Regions from separate parts of the Homo sapiens genome. Here region 1 is linked to region 2. Evidence: fine-mapped expression QTL. A gene starts in region 2. The other region holds a variant in brackets. All regions are shown on one strand. Distances are from middle to middle.

Region 1 (8,334 bases), 130 kb before region 2:
TACTTATCCTTTGTTTTTTTTTTTTTTTGAGACGAAGTTTTGCTCTTGTTGCCCAGGCTGGTGTGCAATGGTGCATCTCGACTCAACGCAACCTCTGTCTCCCGGGTTCAAGTGATTCTCCTGCCTCAGCCTCCCGAGTAGCTGGGATTACAGGCATGCATCACCACGCCAGCTAATTTTGTATTTTTAGTAGAGACAGGGTTTCTCCATGTTGGTCAGGCTGGTCTCAAACTCCCGACCTCAGGTGATCCACCTGCCTTGGCCTCCCAAAGTGTTGGGATTACAGGCGTGTGCCACTGCTCCTGGCTTATTTTTCTTTTTGTTACTGAGTTGAAATCATTTTTTATATATTTTAGATACAAGTCACTTACCAAATATGTAATTTGCACAAATTTTCTCCCATTCTGTGGGATGTCTTTTCATTTAAACCAAAAAATTGTAGAGATGGGGGTTTTGCTGTGTTGCCCAGGTTGGTCTTGAACTCCTGGTCTTAAGTGATCCTCTGACCTTGGCCTCAAAAAGTGCTGCGATTATAGGCATGAGCCAATGTGCGCAGCTTACCTTTTCTTCTTTTCTTTTTTTTTGAGGCAGGGTCTTGCTCTGTTGCCCAGGCTGGAGTGCAGTGGTGCAATCATGGCTTACTGCAGGCTGAAACTCCCATGCTCAAGTGATCCTCCCACTTTAGCCTCCTAGGTAACTGGGACCTTAGGGGCGTGCCATCACACCTTGCTAATTTTTTTTTTTTTTTGAGATGGAGTCTTGCCCTGTCGCCCAGGTTGGAGTGCAGTGGAGCGATCTTGGCTCACTGCAAATTCCACCTCCCGGATTCAAGTGATTCTCCTCCCTCAGCCTCCTGAGTAGCTGGGACTACAGGCGTGTGCCACCACGCCCAGCTAATTTTTGTATTCTGAGTAGAGACGGGATTTCACCACATTGGCCAGGCTGGTCTCGATCTCTTGACCTCGTGATCTGCCCGCCTTGGCCTCCCAAAGTGCTGGGATTACAGGTGTGAGTGTGAGCCACCGAACCTGGCCTTTTTTTTTTTTTTTGAGACCGTCTCTGTCACCCAGGCTGGAGTGCAGTAACATGACACAATCTCCGCTCACTGCAACCTCTGCCTTCTGGGTTCAAGTGATCCTTCTGCCACAGCCTCCTGAGTAGCTGGGATTGCAGGCATGTGCTACCACGCCTGGCTAATTTTTGTATTTTTAGTAGAGACGGGGTTTCACCATGTTGGCCTACCTGGTCTTGAATTCCTGACCTCAGATGATCTGCCCGCATCAGCCTCCCAAAGTGCTGGGGTTACAAGCGTGAGCCACCACGCCTAGCTGGACCTGACTAATTAAAAAAAAAATTTTGTAGGCTGGGCAGGGTGGCTCACACCTGTAATCCCAGTACTTTGAGAGGTGGAGGCGGGGTAATCGCCTGAATCAGGAGTTTGAGACCAGCCCGGGCAACATAACGAAACCCTAGGTCTACCAGAAATACACAAAAAAATTAGCCGAGCATGGTAGTGCACATTTGTAGTCCCAGCTACTCAGGAGGCTGAGGTGGGAGGATGGCTGGAGCCAGGGAAGCAGTGGTTACAGTGAGCCGAGAATGTGCCACTGCACTCCCGCTTGGGTGACAGAGTGAGATAAGGTCTCAGAAAAAAAAAAAAAATTTATAGGCCGGGCGCAATGGCTCACGCCTGTAATCCCAGCACTTTGGGAGGACCAGGCGGGCGGATCACAAGGTCAGGAGATCGAGACCACCCTGGCCAACATGGTGAAACCCCGTCTCCACTAAAAAAATACAAAAATTAGCTGGGCGTGGTGGCACGTGCCTGTAGTCCCAGCTACTTGGCAGGCTGAGGCAGAAGAATTGCTTGAACCCTGGAGGCGGAGGTTGCAGTGAGCCGAGATTGCACCATTGCACTCCAGCCTGGGCGACAGAGCGAGACTCCATCTCAAAAAAAAAAAAAAAAAAAATTTGTGAAGACAAGGTCTCAATATTTGCCCAGGATGGTCTGAAACTTCTGGGCTCAAGCCATCCTTCTGCCTCAGCCTCCCAAAGTATTGGAATTACAGGTGTGAGCCACTGTGTCTGGCCTATTTATAGACTCTTAATTCTGTTTCCTTGGTCTGTATGTCTATACTATGTCAGTGCCACACTGTCTTGATTACTGTAGCTTTGTGGTGAGTTTTGGAATTGGGAAGTGTCAGTCCTCTAACTTTGTTGTATATATTCTTTTCTGTTTTGCACAGATATCAGGTTACAAATATTTTGCACACTTTTTTTTTTTTTTGAAATGGAGTCTTACTCTGTCACCCAGGCTGGAGTGCAGTGGCGCGATCTCAGCCCACTGCAAGCTCCGCCTCCCAGGTTCACACCATTCTCCTGCCTCAGCCTCCCCAGCAGCTGGGACTGCAGGCGCACACTGCCATGCCCAGCTAATTTTTTTGTATTTTAAGTAGAGACAGGGTTTCACTGTGTTAGCCAGGATGGCCTCGATCTCCTGACCTCGTGATCCGCCTGCCTAGGCCTCCCAAAGTGCTGGGATTACAGGCGTGAGCCACCGCACCCGGCCTTGCACATGTTTTTAAAACTTAATACATAATAGCTTATCCTGTATCAATTAACATAGCTACTTTATTTATTCTTAGGGCCGCATAGTATTTTTTTTTCTTTCTTTTTTTTTTTTTTTTTTTTTTTTGAGACTGAGTCTCGCTCTGTTGCCCAGGCTGGAGTGCAGTGGTGTGATCTTGGCTTAAGCAACCTCTGCCTCCTGGGATCAAGCCTCGGGATCCTCCTACCTCAACCTCTGCAGTATTTGGGACTACAGACACCTGCTACCACACCCAGTTAATTTTCGTATTTTTTTGTAGAGATAGGGTCTCTATTGATGTGCATTTAGGCTTTATAATATTTATATATATATTTTTTGAAACAAAGTTTTGCTCTTGTTGCCCAGGCTGGAGTGCAGTGGCATGATCTTGGCTCACTGCAACCTTCGCCTCCCAGGTTCAAGTGATTCTCCTGCCTTAGACTCCCGAGTAGCTGGGATTACAGTTTTTAAAAAATGTATCCTAGGCTGGGCGCAGTGGCTCACGCCTGTAATCCCAGCCCTTTGGGAGGCTGAGGCGGGTGGATCACCTGAGGTTTGGAGTTTGAGACCAGCCTGGCCAACATGGTGAAACCTCGTCTGTACTAAAAATACAAAAATTAGCTGGGTGTACTGGCGGGCACCTGTAATCTCAGCTTCTTGGGAGGCTGAGACAGGAGAATCTCTTGAACTTGAGAGGCGGTGGTTGCAGTGAGCCATTGCACTCCAGCCTGGGTGTCAAGCAAAACTCTGTCTCTCTCTCTCTCTGTGTCTCTCTCTCTCTCTCTGTGTGTGTGTGTGTGTGTGTGTGTATATGTATATATATTCTGCCAATATTTTGTGATTAGAGAGTTTAAAGTATTTACATTTAAAGTAATTACTGATAAGGACTTTTGCCATTTTGCTACTACTTTTATGTTTAGCTGATTTTTTTTTTTTTGGTAGTGAAAAAAAATTTTTTTTTTTTGAGAGCATGAGACTGTTGCCTAGGCTTTGGTGAGCAAAATAGTGCAGTGCCACAATCTCAGCTCACTGCAACTTTGGGCTCAAGTGATCCTCCTGTCCCAGTCTCCTGAGTAGCTGGTAGTATAGGTGTGCCACCACCATGCCTGGCTAATTTTTGTATTTTTTGTAGAGATAGGGTTTTGCCATGTTGCCCAGGCTGGTCTCAAACTGGGTTCAAACAATCTACCTGCCTTAGCCTTCCAAAGTGTTGGGATTACAGGCATTAGCCACTTTCTGCCCCCTCCCCCGCTTTTTTTTTTTTTTTTTTTTTTTTGAGACGGAGTTTCACTCTTGTTGCCCAGGCTGGAGTGCAGTGGCATGATTTCAGCTCACTGCAACCTCCGCCTCCCGGGTTCAGGCATTTTCCTGCCTCTGCCTCCCAAGTAGCTGGGATTACAGGCTTGCCACCATGCCTGGCTAATTTTGTATTTTTAATAGAGATGGGGTTTCTCTATGTTGGTCAGGCTGGTCTCGAACTCCTGACCTCAGGTGATCCTCCTGCCTTGGCTTCCCAAAGTGCTGGGATTATAGGCGTAAGCCATCACGCCTGGCCCACGCTTTATTTTTTTATTTTTATTTTTTATTATTTATTTATTTATTTTTTGAGACGGAGTTTCGTTCTTGTTGCCCAGGCTGGAGTGCAATGGCATAATCTCAGCTCACCGCAGCCTCCGCCTCCTGGGTTCAAGTGATTCTCCTGCCTCAGCCTCCTGAGTAGCTGAATTTACAGGCATGCGCCACCATGCCCAGCTAATTTTGTATTTTTAGTAGAGACGGGGTTTCTCCATGTTGGTCAGGCTGGTCTCGAACTCCAGACCTCAGGTGATCCTCCCGCCTCGGCCTCCCAAAGTGCTGGGATTACAGGCGTAAGCCACCAGGCCTGGCCTGCTTTTTTAATTTTTTATTTATTTTTTCTTTTTAAGAGGGAGGGTCTTGCTGTGTTGTCCAGATTGGAGAACAGTGATGAGATCATAGCTCACTGCAGACTTGGATTCCTGGACTCAAGCAATCCTCCCGCTTCATTCTTTGCAAGTAACTGGAAGTGCAGACATGTGCCACCTGCCTTTTTTGTTTTTTAAATTTTTCATAGAGATGGGGTCTTGCTATATTGCCTAGGCTGGTCTCAAACTCCTGGCCTCAAGCAATCGGCTTCCTGAAGTGCTGGGATTACAGATGTTAGCCACTGGCCTGTTGTGAAAATGTTTTGACTTTCTTCTCATTTTCTTTCTTTCTTTTTTTTTTTTTTTGAAGTAGAGAGAGTCTCACTATATGGCCAATGGTGGTTTCAAACCCCTGAGCCCAAGGAATCCTCCTGCCTCAGCCTCCCAGTGCTTGT[C/T]GTGCTAGGACAACAAGCATGAGCCACTGTGCCTAGCCCCTTCTCATTTTCTTTTTCTTTCTAGTGCATAAGCAGGCAACCTTATTTTCTTATGTGTATATTCTAAAGATATGTTCTTTGCAGTTACCATGGGAATTACACTTAACATCTCACAGTTATAATCTAATTTGAATTTATACTAACTTAAGTTCCATAGTATACAAATCTCTGCTCCTATCCAGCTCCTTTCTCTTCCCTTTTCTGTTAAGTCATGGATTACATCTTTGTAAATCGTATCTCAGGAACCTAGATTAATAATTTTTTATGCATCTGTCTTTTAGATCACATTGAAAGTGAAAAGTAGGAGTTACAAAGCAAAATTGCAATAATGCTAGTTTTTACAGTTGCCCCTGTATTTGCCTTTACCAGAGATCTTTCTTTCTTTTTTTTTTTTTTGGGATGGAGTCTCGCTCTTTCGCCCAGGCTGGAGTGCAATGGCGCAATCTCAGCTGACTGTAACCTCTGCCTCCCGGGTTCAAAAGATTTTCTTGCCTCAGGCTCCTGAGTAGCTGGGACTGTAGTTGTACGCCACCACACGTGGCTGATTTTTGTATTTTTAGTAGAGATGGGGTTTTGCCATGTTGGCCAGGCTGGTCTTGAACTCCTGACCTCAGGTGTGAGCCACCGCACCTGGCCGAGATCTTTATTTCTTCACATGGCTTCACGTCTAGCTTTTAAAAATTCATTCTGGGCCGGGCGCAGTGGCTCACGCCTGTAATCCCGACACTTTGGGAGGCTAAGGCGGGCGGATCACGAGGTCAGGAGATCGAGACCATCCTGGTTAACACAGTGAAACCCCGTCTCTACTAAAAACACAAAAGGCCGGGTGCGGTGGCTCACGCCTGTAATCCCAGCACTTTGGGAGGCTGAGGTGGGTGGATCACGAGGTCAGGAGATCGAGACCATCCTGGCTAACATGGTGAAACCCCGTCTCCACTAAAAATACAAAAAACAAAACAAAACAAAAAAAACTATTAGCTGGCATTGCGGTGGGCACCTGTAGTCCCAGCTACTCGGGAGGCTGAGGCAGGAGAATGGCGTCAACCCAGGAGGCGGAGCTTGCAGTGAGCCAAGATCACGCCACTGCACTCCAGCCTGGGAGACAGCAAGACTCTGTCTCAAAAACAAAAAACAAAAAACCACAAAAATTAGCCGGGCGTGGTGGCGGGCGCCTGTAGTCCCAGTTACTCGGGAAGCTGAGGCAGGAGAATGGCATGAACCCAGGAGGTGGAGCTTGCAGTGAGCCGAGATCGCTCAACTGCATTCCAGCCTTGGCAACAGAGCGAGACTCCATTTCAAAAAAAAAAAAAATTCATTCTGAAGAATTCCTTTTTTTTTTTTTTTTTTTGTAAAAATGGAGTCTCACTCTGTTGCCCTGGCTGGAGTGCTGAGTGCCATGGCATGATCTCAGCTCACTGCAACCAACCCCCACTCCAAGTTGAAGCGATACTCCTGCCTCAGCCTCCTGACTAGCTGGGATTAGGGGTGCCTGCTACTGCACCTGGCTAATTTTTGTATTTTTAGTAGAGACGGGTTTCACCATCTTGGCCAGGCTGGTGTCGAACTCCTGACCTCGTGACCAACCCACTTCGGCCTCCCAAAGTGCTGGGATTACAGGCGTGAGCCACTGTGCCCGGACTGAAGAATTCCCTTTTAGCATTTCTTACAAGGTCTGTATAGTGGTAATGAGCCTCCCTCAGCTTTTGTTTATCTGAGAATGTCTTGATTTTTTTCCTTTTTTTTTTTTTTTTTTGAGATGGAGTCTCGCTCTGTCGCCCAGGCTGGAGTGCAGTGGCGTGATCTCAGCTCACTGCAAGCTCCGCCTCCTGGGTTCACACCATTCTCCTGCCTCAGCCTCGTGAGTAGCTGGGACTACAGGTGCCCGCCACCACGCCTGGCTAATTTTTTTTTTTTTTTTTGTATTTTTAGTAGAGACGGGGTTTCACTGTGTTAGCCAGGATGGTCTCAATCTCCTGACCTTGTGATCCGCCCGCCTCGGCCTCCCAAAGTGCTGGGATTACAGGTGTGAGCCGCCTCGCCCGGCCAATGTTTTTCCCTATTTTTTGAAAGACAGTGTTGCCATTTACAGAATTCTTGGTTGGCAATTTATATTTAGGGTTTTTTTTTTTTTTTTTGAGACAGAGTCTTGCTCTGTTGCCCAGGCTGGAGTGCAGTGGTGTGACCTCGGCTCACTGCAACCTCCGCCTCCAGGGTTCAAGTCATTCTCCTGCCTCAGCCTCCCAAGTAGCTGGGACTACAGGTGCCCGCCACTACGCCTGGCTAATTTTTTGTATTTTTAGTAGAGACGGGGTGTCACCATGTTGGCCAGGCTGGTCTCGAACTCCTGACCTCAAGTGATCCACACGCCTCAGCCTCCCAAAGTGCAGGGATTACAGACATGAGCCCCCACGCCCGGCCTAGGTCTTGTATGATCATACATTTTGCCTTGGCATTCATATGGCTTTCTAAATTTCACCATATACATGTTGCTTTGGAATGTCCTAATTTGCCAAAGAGTTTCACCTCAACTTCTGTGGGCATCTATCTGTAATCTCTTGCCCCAAGTGCCTGTTAGTCTGTAGTCTGCTTTGCAGCTTTCATTAGCAATACCTGCTGCTTTCTCTGCCTGAGTTTTGTATTAGGTTGAAATAGAAACATGCACCTTATGTCTGTCCTTCAAATACCCCCGCAGACAGGGTAGAACAGATATGTACGATAATTTGCAAATAAGGTCTGCTTTGCTCTTTGAGGGAGGGAGCTGGGAATTGGGCTTCTACTGCTTTAAGACAAAAAACACTGCCATGCTGGAGAGGGGGTAGGGCAAGGTTGAGTAAAACACCACAGAACTTTCCTTCTGTTTTGAAGATGGCTTTTTCTTCATTGGATATTTGCTTGTAAACCTTTGACTCTTTTCTAAAACTGTCAAATTTGGTTCAGACAGTTACTACTTGTTTTTCTGATGTTTCTATGAAGGAATGAGACCTTGAAACTTCCTAGTCTGCCATTTTGATGACCTATGGGCTGTCTTTGTACTCTCTTGATAGTGTCCTTTGATACACAGAAGTTTTTAATTTTGGTGAAGTCCCTTTATCTACTTTTTCTTTTAAAGTTCCTTGTGCTGTAGGGGTCATATTTAAGAAATCATTGCCAAATCCAAGGTCATGAAGATTTGCCTCTTTTTCAGTAGCTATAACAAAGGTCCTGGAAATAACTTCTTATCTTGACTTGAGTTACATGTCTGTCTTCAAAGCAATGACTGTGGTGAGGGTAATAGATTATTCCGATTGCTCATGCTGGATGGTGTCCGATCAGGTCTGAGACAGTGGGGTTGATACTACAGTGCTGTTTCCAAAAAGGAAGGGCTAGTGAG
Region 2 (8,334 bases):
CCAGACGGGGTGGCGGCCGGGCAGAGGCTGCAATCTCGGCACTTTGGGAGGCCAAGGCAGGCTGCTGGGAGGTGGAGGTTGTAGCGAGCCGAGATCATGCCACTGCACTCCAGCCTGGGCACCATTGAGCACTGAGTGAACGAGACTCCGTCTGCAATCCCGGCACCTCGGGAGGCCGAGGCTGGCGGATCACTCACGGTTAGGAGCTGGAGACCAGCCCGGCCAACACAGCGAATCCCCGTCTCCACCAAAAAAATACGAAAACCAGTCAGGCGTGGCGGTGCGCACCTGCAATCGCAGGCACTCGGCAAGCTGAGGCAGGAGAATCAGGCAGGGAGGTTGCAGTGAGCCGAGATGGCAGCAGTACTGTCCAGCTTCGGCTCGGCATCAGAGGGAGACCGTGGAAAGAGAGAGAGAGGGAGACCGTGGGGAGAGGGAGAGGGAGAGGGCTAGAAAAGACAATCTTAAAGGACTATCCCTTATTGAACATATGTGGCTTTATTTAAAACAAAGAGCAACTCACTCTGATGTCTTTCTTTTTCTTACATCAGCTACCAGACAGGCCTTTGGCAGCAGAGCTCTGGAGCTCAACAGGCCAATGTCTAAAAGAAGATCAGCTACCAGAGATAATTTGGAGGATGGCACTTACCTATGGATGAAATCCATCTTTTTTTGCCAGGGACCTCTTCAAGTTTAAGAATTATTTTGCAGGCTGGGCATGGTGGCTCACGCTTGTAATCCCAGCACTTTGGGAGGTTGAGGCAGGAGGATCGCTTGAACTCAGGAGTTCGAGACCAGCCAGGGCAACATGGTGAAACTCCATCTCTACCCCAAAAATACAAAAAATTAGTTGGGCATGGTGGTGCACACCTGTGGTCTCAGCTACTCAGGAGGCTGAGGTGGGAGGATCTCTTGACCTGGATAGGTCGAGGTTGCAATGAACCGAGATCATGACATTGCACTCCAACCTGGGTGACAGAGTAAGACCCCGTCTCAAAAAAAAAAAAGATTATTTTGAGGTTTGTGAATAGCTATATAGCTTTTATGACTGGTGGTAAGCCCAGCTCAGCAAGCACCTCAGGAATATCCAAAGGTGCTTGTTGAACTGCTTTGGGGACAAGGCAGGCAACGGCTAGTGGCTATGAAGTCTAGTGAGTTCTAGATTCTTGGCATCTGCATCATCCATTGTAGGGTTTGCAGTGATGTCATCAATGTTAACTTTTAAATTTCATTAATGCATGTACTCTTTTCTGATATTTTGCATATATGCTTCCCCATAAATTGTATATATTTCCTCTCTAAATACACACACACCACATATATTATATTTCTACCTTTTCGTCTATATATGTATTGTGTATATACCTATATATAGATATATACACTGACATCCCTCCACTTATTCTTGAAAGATTTGTTTTCCAGAGAGAGAAGAAAATGGTATAGGCACAGTTTTCTGTAACTGATGTATAACTTTCTGTAACTAATGGTATAGGCACAGTTTTCAATTTGTATGACCTGAAAAATCAGTTCTGGCTGGGTGCGGTGGCTCATGCCTGTAATCCTAGCACTTTGGGAGGCTGAGGCAGGTGGATCACCTGAGGTCAGGAGTTCGAAACCAGCCTGGTCAACATGGTGAAACCCCATCTCTACTAAAAATACAAAAATTAGCTGGGTGTGGTGGCGGGTGCCTGTAATCCCAGCTGTTTGGGAGGCTGAGGCAGGAGAATCACTTGAACCTGGGAGGCAGAGTTTGCAGTGAGTTGAAACTGTGCCATTGCACTCCAGCCTGGGCAACAGGAGCAAAACTCCATCTCAAACAAACAAACAAACAAAAATGTTTGCAAAGCATCTAGGGCAATAATATAGCATCTAGTAAAGCGATCAACTAATGTTCCTCATTTTAATTTATTTTTTATTTTTATTTTTTTTTGAGATAGAGTCTTGCTGTGTTGCACAAGCTGGAGTGCGGTAGAGCAATCTCGGCTCACTGCAACCTCCGCCTCTTGGGTTCAAGCGATTCTCCTACCTCAGCCTCCCAAGTAGCTGGGATTATAGGTGTGCGCCACCACACCCAGCTAATTTTTGTATTTTTAGTAGAGACGGGGTTTAGCCATGTTGGCCAGGCTGGTCTCGAACTCCTGAGCTCAGCTGATCCACCTGCCTCGGCCTCCCACAGTGCTTGGATTACAGGCATGAGCCATCATGCCTGGCCCCTCCTTTTTATTTATTTATTTATTATTATTATTATTATTATTATTATTATTATTATTATTATTATTTTGAGACTGAGTCTTGCTCTGTCACCCAGGCTGGAGTGCAGTGGCACGATCTCAGCTCACTGCAACCTCTGCCTCCCTGGTTCAAGTGATTCTCCTGCCTCAGCCTCCCTAGTAGCTGGAACTACAGGTGCATGCCACCATGCCCGGCTAATTTTTGTATTTTTAGTAGAGACGCGGTTTCACCATATTGGTCAGGCTGGTCTTGAGCTCCTGACCTCGTGATCCACTTGCCTCGGCCTCCCAAAGTGCTGGGATTACAGGCGTGAGCCACTGCGTCCAGCCTTTTTTTTTTTTTTTTTTGAAACAGAGTCTCACTCTGTTGCCCAGGCTGGAGTGCAGTGGCGCAATCTCGGCTCACTGCAAGCTCCGCCTCCCGGGTTCACACCATTCTCCTGCCTCAGCCGCCCAAGTAGCTGGGACTACAGGCGCCCGCCACCATGCCCAGCTAATTTTTTTGTATTTTTAGTAGAGACGGGATTTCACCGTGTTAGCCAGGATGGTCTCGATCTCCTGACCTTGTGATCCGCCCGCCTTGGCCTCCCAAAGTGCTGGGATTACAGGAGTGAGCCACCGCGCCCAGCACCGGCCTCCTTTTTATTTTTTAGCGACAGTTTCTCGCATTGTCCCCAGGCTGGAGTGCTGTGACGAGATCACAGCTCACTGCAGCCTCGACCTCTTGGGCCCAAGCGAACCTCTCACCTCAGCTCCTGAGTAGCTGGGACAAGAGGTGCACGCCACCATGCTCAGTTAATTTTATTTTTTGTAGAGATAGGATCTCACTGTGTTTCCCAGGCTGGTCTCGAACTCCTGGCCTCAAGCGATCCTCCTGCCTCGGCCTCCCAAAATGCTGGCTTGTGAGTGAGCCACCACTTCACGCACGGTCTCCTTTTGAAGTAGAATTAGACAATGTTTTACACCGTGCCAGTGAAAGCAAACTGTACTCTCTACGGCGCTAGTAGCAAAAGCAAAGAATTATTAACATGCCTAATAGGAGCCCTAAAAACTAATCCAGGTCTGCAAAAGCCGATCGACAACTCTGTAGTGATTTAGAAGAGAATTGCAAGACATTAACACAGAGCGTCCTAAGTGACAGGATGGTCTGGCGACCACATTTCCCGGCAGCCCTCGCACAGCCAGGCCGCTTCGAGGATTGGACTTCTCCGCAGGAGGCGGGTGACAGGGGGAGGGGATAAGCGTGAGGTACTGTGGGTAGGAGACGGCCGTCGGCGGAGGCGCCATTTTGTGTAGCCGCCGAACCTTGTTGGAGGTTCTGGGGCGCAGAACCGCTACTGCTGCTTCGGTCTCTCCTTGGGGTAAGTGCGGCGGCTGTCTGTAACGACGGTAGGTTCTTGCCATTTGGGCTGGCCCCCAAGCCTCCCTTGTCAGCTGCCGGAGGCGACTGATCAGCTCCAGCCGGTTCTGTAGAGGGGCTAAATTACCCCAGGCGTTGGAGGGCCGCGCCCTTCCTTGTTGCCAGCTCTGTCAGTTTCCAGAGGGTGTCCAGCCAGCTCAGCCTTGGGCCTGCTTCTTTCTGGCTGTGACTTTGCCCCTTGTGGATACACGTCCCCTAATCTTCAGCCCAACGGAGCAGTGGAGCCGTCGCCTGTCCCTCGGGCACTCCTTGGGAGCTCCCTGGCAGTCTCTGGCCGCCATCCCCCGCTCAACTGCAACTGAATCGCCCTCTCCGAAAAGCTGTTCGGTGATCGCCCATCTGCGGGTTTGGAACCTCTTGGGAGGCGGGAGGGGCATGTGCGGGGAGGGCAGGCCGGACGCTGGAGTCGGTCGAGCAGGCCGTGACGCCGCCATCTCGGCCGCGAGACCCCACGGAGGTGGGTGCCGGCACCGCCCGGGAGACAAGGGGCGGCACCAGTGAATATGCCCCGGGACTTGTTTCCCCCCAGTGGTTCTTTTTCATTTATTAATTTCAACAAATCGTTGAGCATTCGCTCTAGACTAGGCTTCCAGAGACTACTGGAACTGATTTTTCGGACCTCGCGCTCATCGAACGCGGTCCAGCAGTGTGATGTCTTATTACCAACGGGGGGCGGGGGGCCGGGCTGTTCACTACTCAGTGGTTTGTAGTCATAAGAACTGGCTCAAGACGTGGTGGTTATTGTTACCTAGGAATTAGGTCGTTTCTAGCTTTGCTCTTGTCTTATGCGATACGTTATTAATGTAGTAGATTTCAGTCAGCTCAGTATCCCAGCTTCTACGAGGTTTTACATTTTTCATCAGAAGTGTTTGAATTTCATGTTGCTCCTTGTATTAATGAAGACACTTGGATTAATGTTTTAACGGTCAACTATCCCACGGAGTTGCTTTGATACAAAACCAAGGAGCTGATTGTAGCTCTGCCCTTTTTGCTTTGTAATTCTAAGGTAGGAGCAGGGAAGGAGTCTTCTGCTTGCTCCGTATTATGATTCTGTTAAATCTGGAATCTAATATTTTAAAATATGCTTAATCTTCCGGTTTTGCTCATTGTTAACAAAATGTTAGCACGATTTTAACGTTGACAGTTTGTCCCCACCACTTCCCCACCTTAGATAATCACTGTCAATGATTTGAAGGTTTGATGAAATCCCAGCCTCAGTAGTATCCAAGCTATGGAGCTGCTGACTTAAGTGATCTCTGAGATTTATAGCAATTAATCTCTCTTGTCTCCTAGAAAAAATAAAATTTGAACCTTTTGGAGCTGTGTGCTAAATCTTCAGTGGGACAATGGGTTCAGACAAAAGGTAAGTTACTACAGTACGTGGCTTTGATCTCAACATTTCAGTGGGGACTGAACTCCTTGTTTAAAATAGTTTATCAAACTAATATATGAGTGTTTTGCGCCAGGCATTGCTAACGAACACCTTTATGATCCTGTTGTCACAAACTACAGTCTAGTGAGAGAATTAAAGTACTGTGTGAACATGCTGTGATAAAGTGTAGGGTGCTCTTAGAACACATAGGAAGTATGTCTTTTTCTTGTTCACAGCCAGGAAAGCTTCCTGGAGAAAATATTCTCTGGAAGGAAGCTGAAGGATAAGAAAGAATTTTAGGCAAAGAAGGGCAGGGTAGAGTGGGTCACTGAAGGTTCCCTGTGTGGACAGCAACCTTTGCAGAATCCAGGAGATCATACAGTCTGGCACTTAGCACAGTTCCTGGCTGTGGTAAGCAATCAATGAATGCCATTTCTTGTTATTGTTCCCTGAATAGCAAGATGATCCAGACTTAGAGAGCTGAGAAGCTTGGGACTGTGTGTTACATGAAGAAAGAAAGAGCCAAAGAATTAGTGGAAAATTAAGATGAGAGCATTTGGCTATTGTGTCACCTATGGGTACATGCTCTCAGACCATTTGATTTAAACACACACCCTTATTCAGCCATCTGCCTTTTTAGTATTGAGGTCAGTCCCTGTGGTAGATCACATTGACAGGCTGAGGGACCTTAGGAGATGTTCATGTCACATGGTATTTTAATGCTGTGTCAGCAGTCTGTGGTTCTAAATAGCTTACTAAATTAACATTTACCCCTTTGGGGTGTCTCAGTCCCATATTTCCTTTGATTCTTTTTATTAAATTTGTATATTCTAAATGAAGCCCTTATAAACCTTTCCTTTGCCTTATGATTGCACAGCAGTTTTATGAATCTGGTAAACAGTTTACAAAAGGTGTATTTTATCTGTGGTCAAATAGGTTTAAGCCTCTTGTTATTAGGTTTTCCCATGAAGCCCAGTGCTGCCCTTTAGCCAAAAATAAACCAGATGTTATAAGAAGAGTGTTCTCTTAAGGGGTGCTAGTTTTGGGTAACTATCCAGTTGTATCTGACAGACAACTAAGTTGCCTGATGGGGAAAAAAAAGACTAACTTAGTTCATCCAGGTTTTTGGTCCATTTTCCAGTAGGCATGATACCCTTGAGAGTAGATGAGCCAGGGATGTACTTAATTTCACCCTTTAAAATTGGGTGAAATTCGAGTAACTGCTTTCTTCCTGTTTTTGGTCACTAAGATCTGAATCAGGGATGAAGGGATAATATGTAGACTCTAGGCTTGACAAAATGCAAAAATAAACTTGGACAACATGACTCTTTCTTAGAAATATTCAACCCAAATGTTTATTTCAGATTTAGCATACATTCCTGAGAATTATCATTACATTTAGGGATGTAGGTATTTTCCCAGTGGTTATCTTAGTAAACTGGAATTTGGTAATACTTTTTAACACTTTAAACTATTTGGATTATCTTATAAACTGATCTGTGGGCCGTGTGTATTTTTAACTATGTCTTTTAAAGGTACAAAATGTGACTGACTTTAGAATGAAAATTATTTTCCCTGGCAGAGTGAGTAGAACAGAGCGTAGTGGAAGATACGGTTCCATCATAGACAGGGATGACCGTGATGAGCGTGAATCCCGAAGCAGGCGGAGGGACTCAGATTACAAAAGATCTAGTGATGATCGGAGGGGTGATAGATATGATGACTACCGAGACTATGACAGTCCAGAGGTGAGTGACCAGCGGCTGTATAACCCCCCAAAACACTCTGAGCCTTATAGTAATAGAAATAACAGCCAGGCAGCCAGGTCCAGTGGCCCCTTCCCATAATCCTATCACTTTGGGAGGCCAAGGCGGCCAGATCACTTGAGGTCAGGAGTTTAAGACCAGTCTGGCCAACATAGTAAAACCCGTCTCTACTAAAAATACAAAAATTAGCTGAGTGGGGTGGTGGGCGCCTGTAATCCCAGCTACTTGGGAGACTGAGGTAAGAGAATCACTTGAAACCTGGGAGGCGGAGGTTGCAGTGAGCTGAGATTGTATCAGTGCTCTCCAGCATGGGTGACAAAGCAAGACTCCATCTCAAAAAAAAAAAAAAAAGAAAAGAAATAATGGCCAGGGTTTACATAGGGATCACCATGTACTTTTGAGCACTTGACTTCATGAATTCATTTAGGTCTCAGTACAACCTGATAAGGTAGGTGTTATTCCCATTTTAAAGATGAAACAATGGGGTTATGATAACATATTAGTTCTGTGTTTTGAAATGAATGATAAATATAAGTTGTTGGCCAGGCACAGTGGCTCACACCTGTAATCCCAACAATTTGGGAGGCCGAGGCAGGAGGATCCCTTGAGCCCAGGAGTTAGAGGCCAGCCTGGGCACCATAGGGAGACCCTGTCTTTAAAATAATAATAATGAAAAATAATAAATATAAGTTGTTGTTTTGGTCATCTTGATATATCTTTTTTTTTTTTTTTTTTTTTTTTTTTTGAGACAGCTTTTTAGTCTTGTCACCCAGGCTGGAGTGCAGTGGTGCGACCTCAGCTACTCAGGAGGCTGAGGTACGAGAATTGCTTGAGCCTGGGAGGCAGTGGTTGCAGTGAGCTGAGATCATGCCATTGCACTCCAGCATGGACGACAGAGGGAGACTCTGTCTCAAAAAAAAAAAAAACCAGAAGGCCGGCACGGTGGCTTACGCCTGTAATCCCAGCACTTTGGGAGGCCGAGGCGGGCGGATCATGAGGTCAGAAGATTGAGACCATCCTGGCTAACATGGTGAAACCCTGTCTCTACTAAAAATACAAAAAATTAGCTGGGCGTGGTGGCAAGTGCCTATAGTCCCAACTACTCGGGAGGCTGAAGGAGGAGAATTGCTTGAACCCAGGAGGCAGAGGTTGCAGTGAGCAGAGATCATCGCACCACTGCACTCCAGTCTGGGCAATAAGAGTGAAACTGTCTCAAAAAAAAAAAAAAAGAAAACACAGCAGGCTGGGTGTGCCTATAATCCCAGCACTTTGGGAGGCCATAGCAGGAGGGTCATTTGAGGCCAGGAGTTCAGACCAGCCTGGGTAACATAGTGAGACCCCTGTCTCAAAAAAAAAAAATTGCAGTGAACATTACCATGGAGTGCTTGTGTAATCTCTGTACACTTCCTGCTAAGGATAATTTCTAGGAGTGGAGGGTCTGTTTCAAAGAGTACAGGGTGATGTTAATTGTGATTTTGTTTATTGTAACTCAGAGAGAGCGTGAAAGAAGGAACAGTGACCGATCCGAAGATGGCTACCATT

What was found. PIP is the estimated chance that this variant, and not a neighbour inherited with it, causes the effect.
Region 1: its variant is the best candidate, but not a certain one, in a credible set for the expression of RBM5 in whole blood (INTERVAL, PIP 0.53).

The regions. Positions count from the first base shown.
Region 1 is chr3:49,952,490-49,960,823 of GRCh38, forward strand. All of the region lies in intron 1 of RBM6 (RNA binding motif protein 6), which reads left to right. Among named protein-coding and RNA genes, the nearest start is that of RBM6, 17 kb to the left of the region's middle. The variant C/T (reference allele first, on the strand shown) is at 4,926.
Region 2 is chr3:50,085,435-50,093,768 of GRCh38, forward strand. RBM5 (RNA binding motif protein 5) reads left to right here and starts at 3,485. Exons shown (of 25, transcript NM_005778.4): 1 at 3,485-3,595; 2 at 4,948-5,017; 3 at 6,609-6,774; 4 at 8,286-8,334. The coding sequence starts at 5,001. RefSeq lists enhancers at 3,342-3,933, 3,453-3,622, 3,663-3,772, 3,934-4,524.